Homo sapiens: one gene and its partner. The protein of the gene in region 1 interacts with the protein of each later gene in a biochemical or structural test. Each region holds a gene or a part of one and is shown on either strand. Other genes may lie near its edges.

Region 1 (3,745 bases):
TACCTGACACTGTCCCCTCAGTTCAGCAAGCCTGGGGCAGGCCTCTGGGTGGCACTGCTGTGGGCACCGGCTGGGAGTCTGGGCCTGGTGACCTTGAGGCTGCTTGGAGGGGGCCTGGTGGACGGCTGCAATGGCATCCCCAGAGCTTGTCGGAAATGCAGTCATGGCTGGCCTTGCCCTAGCCCCTCTGCATGGGAGTCTGCATGAACAAGCGCCCTGGGAGCTGGGTGCACTGGCTGGTGAGCAGCTTTGCTCTGGGACTCGTGCTCGCTGGCACTGTGCAGCCACCCCTTGTCGGGGCTCCCCGGGCACCACTGGAGGCCTTACCGTGACCCTGAGAACCACCTTAGTTACACCTCACCTTACAAGTGAATGAGCTGACACCCAGAGAGGCAAATGGGCTCCACATCCACAGTCAGTGAGCCACAGGCAGGGGGTCTGCTCGGGGGAGCCCACCTCTCCTCCCTGTGTCAATGTCAGTAGATGGCTAAAGGGGCCAGGGTGTGACCGCCTGTCCTGTGTGCTGGGGACTGTGCTGGTTTTAGCACTGAAGTTTCCCTGTGTCCTGGGAAACCCCTCAGTCCCAGGCACGCCGGTATGGGTGGACGCCCTCTCCACTTCTGCCCCCAGCCACTTCACTCTGCTGCAGCCACTAGGTTTGTCCGTCCTGGGAGAGTAACTCAGGGCCTTGGAAAAATGGCCAACTGGCCAGGCGCGATGGCTCACGCCTGTAATCCCAGAACTTTGGGAGGCTGGGGCAGGTGGATCACTTGAGGTCAGGAGTTCAAGACCAGCCTGGCCAACATGGTGAAACCCCGGCTCTACTAAAAATACAAAATAATAATAATAATAAGCTGGGCATGGTGGTGTGCACCTGTAGTCCCAGCTACTCAGGAGGCTGAGGCAACAGAATTGCTTGAATCCGGCAGGCAGAGATTGTAGTGAGCCGCTGCACTCCAGCCTGGGTGACAGAGCAAGACTCTGTCTCAAAAAAAAAAGGGGGGGGGGCAACGAAGCACCTGGCAGGTGGCGTCGCTGCCCTTTGTGTGGCAGCGGCTATTTTTGCCTGATTCCTTCATACAGTTGAGACCCGGCTGCCTGTGTTGGCCCCTTCGTGCAAATCAGAAAAAAAGGTGCTCTTCCTTGGAGTGGGTGCAGGCCTAGGCCAAATGCACAGGTCTGAGAGAGGGCCAAGCTGAATTCTAACCCACTTGCCCTTTGGCTGGTATCCTTGTGCAGTGAGTAATCTGCCCAACTGTACACAGAGGCCCTGTGGGCCTGGGAGCAGCAATGATTGTTGCTGGACTCAGGAGCCCTGGATCCCCAGCTCCAGGCCTATGTGCAAACAGGGAGGCATGACCCCCACTTGCCTGTGTAGAGAGAGGGGTGCCCTGGCCGGGCGCGGTGGCTCACACCTGTAATCCCTACACTTTGGGAGGCCGAGGCGGGTGGATCACCAGAGGTCAGGAGTTTGAGACCAGCCTGGCCAAGATGGCGAAACCCTGTCTCTACTAAAAATACAAAAATTAGCTGGGCGTGGTGGCACGCGCCTGTAATCCCAGCTACTTGGGAGGCCGAGGCAGGAGAATCGTTTGAACCCAGGAGGCAGAGGCTGCAGTGAGCGGACATTGCATCACTGTACTCCAGCCTGGGTGACAGAGTGAGACCCTGTCTCAAAAAAAATAAAAATAAAAAAGAGAGAGAGACTGAGAGGGGTGCCCACCTGAGAGCTAGAGGCAGGAGCTTACCTGGCTGCGGTAGCTGCAACGGCCGTGTGGAGCCTCCTCGCTTCCAGCCACAGGATCCCTCTGCAGACTGGTCCTTTGACCCAGAAGCCTCTCCCAGTATGGAGCGTGGTCAGGCTGATCCCAGGAAATGCTTCAGAAAAGAGTCTACTTTCGATTTCCAGAAACCACCTGACATAGATGTCTTCCGGGATTGGCTGCTGCTGATACTCCCCAGGGCCCCTCTCTTTTGTCTCAGCTCTGCCTGTGGCTATCAGTGCCAGGCTGGCAGAGGCCCAAGGTGGGAGTCTGGCTGGAGCAAGGCCTGCAAGAGGACTAACAGCCACACTCAGTTGGAAAGGCCGCCAGGCTGGTCAGGGGCTGGCGTTTGGTGGACGGGAGGGGAAGAAGCAGAGGCTCTGGGCCCAGACAGTCTGCACCTGGTGGTGTGGCTGTGGACTCTGACAGAGCGCTCCGAGTCTTTTCCTGGGTCTAGCACGTTGCTGGCTGGGTGAACACCACACAGGGGGCTGCTTATGTGCAAATCCACCCTCTCTGTGCTCTTGGCATGCTGACCACACAGAGGGCCTGTGCCCCACAAGGTTGCATGGCACTGTCCCCTGTCCCCAGGGGAGGGAGGCACTGAGAACCAGGTATGCAGCTGGCCAGTGGAGGAGCTGGACCCTGCTCCAACACCTGACCCCAGAGCCTGTGCTCGCCACTGCTGGACCTGTGGCCACTCTCCTACTGTCTCCCCCTCAGCGGGGCGGGGGACAGAGCCTCTCTGGGTGACATAATGGCTCTGTCCAGCTCATACCCATTCCCTTTCCTCCCACTGAAAGCCGGCACCTCAACTGTCCCTTGGGGAGCACCCCCTCCCATTCCCGGCTGTGTGGTTCCCAGAGGGCCCCCAGCTCTTGGCCTTCAACCACCCAAGGCCTGGCTGTCTGAGCCCTGCGGGGGCCCCGGGCCACACTGCTGGTTTCAGGGTGGGGCTGTGAGCCCAGCCAGCCGGTGAGAGCCAGCTTCTGACTGAGAGGATGTGGGCCCAGGCTGCTGGGGCCGGTGGGGCAGAGCAGAGGGAAGCAGGCATCCTCCGGCCTGAGCTCCTGGGTCCAGCTGGCCTAATCCATGGTCAAGGCTGGGCTTCACCGCTCAGTGAGGCAATCAGCAGCCGCTCTTGTTTCTGTCACTTGCACCCCATGGTTCTGGATGAGCCTTGGGATGTGCCCAGGCCTCTGACCAGTGGTTCTCAGCCTGGGCTGGACAGAAGAATCATCAGGGAGTTTTACAAACTCCTAATGCCTAGACCCAGGAAGTCACCATCTCTGGGAGTAGGGGACAGGCAGGGGCATTTAAAAGCCCCCAGGCAGTCCCACTGGGTGGAAGGCCCTGGTTCCCTGGCAGCTTAGAGTCCGAGACAGCCAGCCCAGAGGTCAGACATTCAATGACTATTTCCTTCAAGGTGTGAGGTTTTAGGCAGCTGCACGGTTTGCCTAATCCCCTCCAGAGGAACTGTGAAGATCCAGGGGCAGGTGCAGCTGGAAATAGAACTGGCTGTGGGGAGTTTAAAAAAATCTCATCTGGATTAAGGGCCTGAGTGCACAGAAACCCCAGCATCATCCCTTCTCAGCAGTGCTAATGACTTCTGCCCAAGTGGCCAGGGAAGGACAGGAGTGCAGAGGACGGGAGGGCATCTCTGGGAAGTGCTGGGAAAGGTTTTAAAACTCAGGTGCCGAATCTTTAGCCCCAGAGTCCGGGAAAGTCCTAAGCCATCCAGGCAGGTAAAATGGAAAACCCAGAGGCCTCCTCGTGGAATCGGAGCACCAACATCTGCTCCCCTGGGGCTCGCAAGGCCTTTCCGGTGTGCGATGACCATGGGGTGGAGGGAAGCGCTGACAGGGGACAGGCAGGGGAAGGGGCAGCGGCTCGGCTCTGAGAAGACAGCTGGGTGAAAGCCTCAGATTCGTGTGGACAGAACTGCTGTCATCAGGAAGCCGCTCCCAAGACATGGTAGGGAA
Region 2 (3,745 bases), on another chromosome or scaffold:
GAGTCAATGTCTAAAAGGGAGACTATTGTTGTAGAAAAGTAAATGATCATTATTCAACTTTACCTTTTATGGAAACACACAATTTCCTAGTATGAAATGTTTATAAACTTGAGGTAGGCCAGGCGCAGTGGCCCACGCCTATAATCCCAGCACTTTAGGAGGCCGAGGCAGGCGGGTCACCTGAGGTCGGGGGTTCGAGACCAGCCTGACCAACATGGAGGGACCCCCCCCCCCCCACCACCACCACCACGAAAAATACAAAATTAGCCGGGCATGGTGGCGCATGCCTGTAATCCCAGCTACTCGGGAGGCTGAGGCAGGAGAATCGCTTGAACCCGGTAGGCAGAGGTTGCGGTGAGCCGAGATAGTGCCGTTGCACTCCAGCCTGGGCAACAAGAGCGAAACTGCGTCTCAAAAAAAAAAAAAACCTTAGGTAAACAAATCAGAACTTTGGAAGCTGACGAAAGCTTTTTCTTCTCAGGCCCTGTGCCCAAGTAGTTAATTGTATCAGTCTCATTTTCTTCAGAATTAACTGAGCCTTCTCCCATTTCTTCCCCAGAATCCTAGAGACAGCCTGAGTCACTGAGGTCCAGGTGTCCTCATTGCGCAGCAACCCAATTCCCAGAGTCACTTTACAAACATTCCGCAGTCTCTGGAACCCGCATGGCGAACTTGAAGGGTAAGGCTGAAACCTAAGTCCCAGCCTCCACCATGCGTCCCCGACTCCCTGGACCTGAACGCCTACTGCTCAGAGGGCAATCGTTTTAGTGTTTCTATTTGAGCACCCGATAATTCAGAATAAACTCTCAAACATGTTGTGAAAGCCCCCCGGTAGGGCTCTGCACGCTAGGACCAACATTTTGCCACACCCACCATTTCCTGGGCACAGACAGTCTGGGCAGGGAGGGGCATTTGATTCGGAAAAGCTTAGAGTTTGCAGTCTTTGCAAAGCCGGGTCATGCCCACTCAGGCCATGGGGCAAGCACCATTTTCTGTGGGATCAGCAACCAGACAGCGGCTGCAGCCCGGCCGCAGCTGGTCCCGGTGGAAGAACTCATTCGCGCTCCACAGCGAGATCTCCTCCAAGTCCAGCCTCAGCTGATGCTCAAAAGGGGCCGGGCCAGCCAAGCTGTGGGTCCCGGGAGGCGCCCTATGCAGTCCTGGGAAGTCCCTTCGCTCCCCCGCGGCCGTGATCTGGGGAAGGGTGACGGGGCTCCAACCCCAATTAGAGAAACTGGAGCGGCCGTCTGGTTTGCTGAGCGAGCCCCTCCGCCTCCCCTCGCAGCGGGACCTGGTGGGACTGGGGTGACCAGACTGCGGCTCGTCACCGGATGGGGCTTACTCTGGGGCCGCAGAGCGCAGGCGGCGGAGGTGCGACGGCGGCGAAGCCCACGAGGCTCCGCAGAAGGTGGCCCGTGCCGCCCCGGGGACGTGTGTGGGTCTCGTAAGGTGCTGCCAACCTTCCCCGAACGCCAGCGCCCTCGATAATCAAAGGCGACTGCCCCGGGCCCAGATCGCTGCCCGCCGCCCCGCTCCTGGAGGGCAGAGCACAGGCTGTGGGGCTCTCCGCGCGCGCCCCGGCCCGGTCCCGGGGAGCCGAACCCTCTCCGGACCGCGCCCCAAGCAGCGCCCGGGCGCCCTCTCCCCTGCCCGGCCGGAGCCGCGTCCCCCGCGCCCCGCGCAGCTCACCGCTCGTTGGCTGGCTCCGGACGGCTGCTGGCGAGGAGGTGCTGCGGGCGCCGGCGGGGCGGTGGCTCCGAGCCTCAAATACTCCCAGCCCCGCCCGGCCCGCCTCTCCCGAGGCGGGGCGGCGCCCCTGCCCAGCCAGTCCTCTCCCCGGACCAGGCTGGGCGAGCCCCGCGCCGGCCAGACACCCCGAGCCGCCGCCGCAGGGGCGACCAGGAAGCTCCCGACGGGGAGAGCGCGGGCACTGAGGGGCGCGACCTCCGCTGCCACCGTTAGGTTCCGTGGCGCTCCCGGGACCTGGGCTGCGGCCGCGTCTGTCCCCCGCCCTCTCCAGAATCACCTGAGTGAAGAATTCGCTGAGAGGAATTCAATTAATAGGTTGCTTTATTTGTAGAATACAAAACCAAAAATCTTTTCAATGTCTATTCCCTAGGGAACTGACTACAAATTGACTACTTATTCTAGATCAATAGGCCTAGTCTCAAAGCAATTCCCTTATAAAGCAATTAATCAGACAACTCTTTAACACATTTTACACAGGAAATTCACATTATATATATATATACCCTCCTTTTAACTTCACCTTATCTTTTTGTTGGAAGAAAGAGATAAGTATTATTATCTCATTTTTACTGTCAGGGTGCTATAGTCTGAATGTTTATATCCCGCCAAAGTTCATATGTTGAAATCCTAACCCTCACGGTGATGTATTAGGAAGTGGAGGCCTTGGGAAGTGATTAGGTCATAGGGGCAGGGTCCTTATGAATGAGATTGGTGCCCTAATAAAAGAGGCCGGAGAGAGACCCCTTGCCACTTCCACCTTGTGAAGACACAGCCAGAAGGCTCCCTCTGTGAACCAGAAAGCAGGCCCTCACCAGACATCAAATCTGCTGGCCTGGATCTTGGATTTCCCGACCTTCAGAACTGTGGGAAATAAATGTATATTGCCTATAAGCTACCCAGTTTATGATATTTTGTTACAGAAGCCCAAACAGACTAAAAGAGAAAATGATTTACTTATCCAAGCTCACTCATGTCTAGGAACAAAATCCAGAAATCCTGGCTCTTACACTTTACCTGGAAAAGCACCAGGCCAAAGAATCCTTGCAGGTTGGAACAAGGATCTCTGAGGAAAAAAAAAAAAATTAAGGGGGGTAGGGGAAGAATCTTTGCAGGGACTGGCTTATGTAAACTATGGAGAAAACCAGGTATCATCTGGTTCCTAAATAATTCCTGTAGCCCTTATAGTAACCAATTAATAACATAAAGATAAATTATTTCCTGCAGTTTTTCAACTTAGGGAAATGTTCCTGTGAAGGACTCACTTGATGGAATTGAGAAGCTGTCTTGGCATTCTCTAGGATAAACTTGAAAGTGTCTTAGTGGTTGGCACGGTTCCTGCAACATCGTCCCCTCTAGGCTTGCACATAGAAGTCACAGTGTGGCTGGGGATTATTTATGCAAGTTTGAACTCTTATCTGAAGAGGTAGCCTGGCAACCAATTTATTTGAATGGATCACCCATAGTAAATGACTAACCTCTGGGTAGTAAAAAGGTATCACCCAAAGGAATGCCCTTGGTCTCCAGGGAAAATGCTATAAATCTTAAGACTTTGAGTCATGAGGCCTCATGGCCAGGAGTGGTACCCTTAGAGGGTTAGCCATTGGTAATAAGAAAAGTAGATAGCCAAATGAATTGCTGTGGAGGCAAGGGATGAATCACACTCTTGCCTTTTCTTCTGGTCATTTCAGAGATAGACAAAGTTCATGCCCTGGCTACTTAGGGGGCTTGCTTACACCTGATTGTATGATCAGACATGCTTTTGGCTTCCCTTCCTTACTTGTACATCCCCATGAATACTTTGGTGCCAACTTCATGCCCCATAAAGCTAACAAAAGGATCCTGCTATGATCAGGGTGTGCCTGGGAATTTATAATTTGTACACATGCAATAAACGGCTCTTTATTACCCAATCCAAAGTCACATCCCTTTTCTAAGATAAGCGTAAAAAGGAACCCAATAAAATCAATTAAGATATCATTGAGTAACTTCTATGTAC

Evidence for each region. The genes of interacting proteins can lie anywhere in the genome.
Region 2: the proteins of LGALS3BP (region 1) and LGALS3 form a complex in vitro, tested with the Homo sapiens proteins (4 studies listed by BioGRID).

The regions. Positions count from the first base shown.
Region 1 is NC_000017.11:78,978,076-78,981,820, forward strand, and holds the start of LGALS3BP (galectin-3-binding protein precursor), read right to left. Parts: upstream 1,849-3,745; 5' UTR 1,749-1,848; intron 1-1,748.
Region 2 is NC_000014.9:55,127,245-55,130,989, reverse strand, and holds the start of LGALS3 (galectin-3), read right to left. Parts: upstream 1,739-3,745; 5' UTR 1,690-1,738; intron 1-1,689. UniProt on the Homo sapiens protein: Galactose-specific lectin which binds IgE. May mediate with the alpha-3, beta-1 integrin the stimulation by CSPG4 of endothelial cells migration.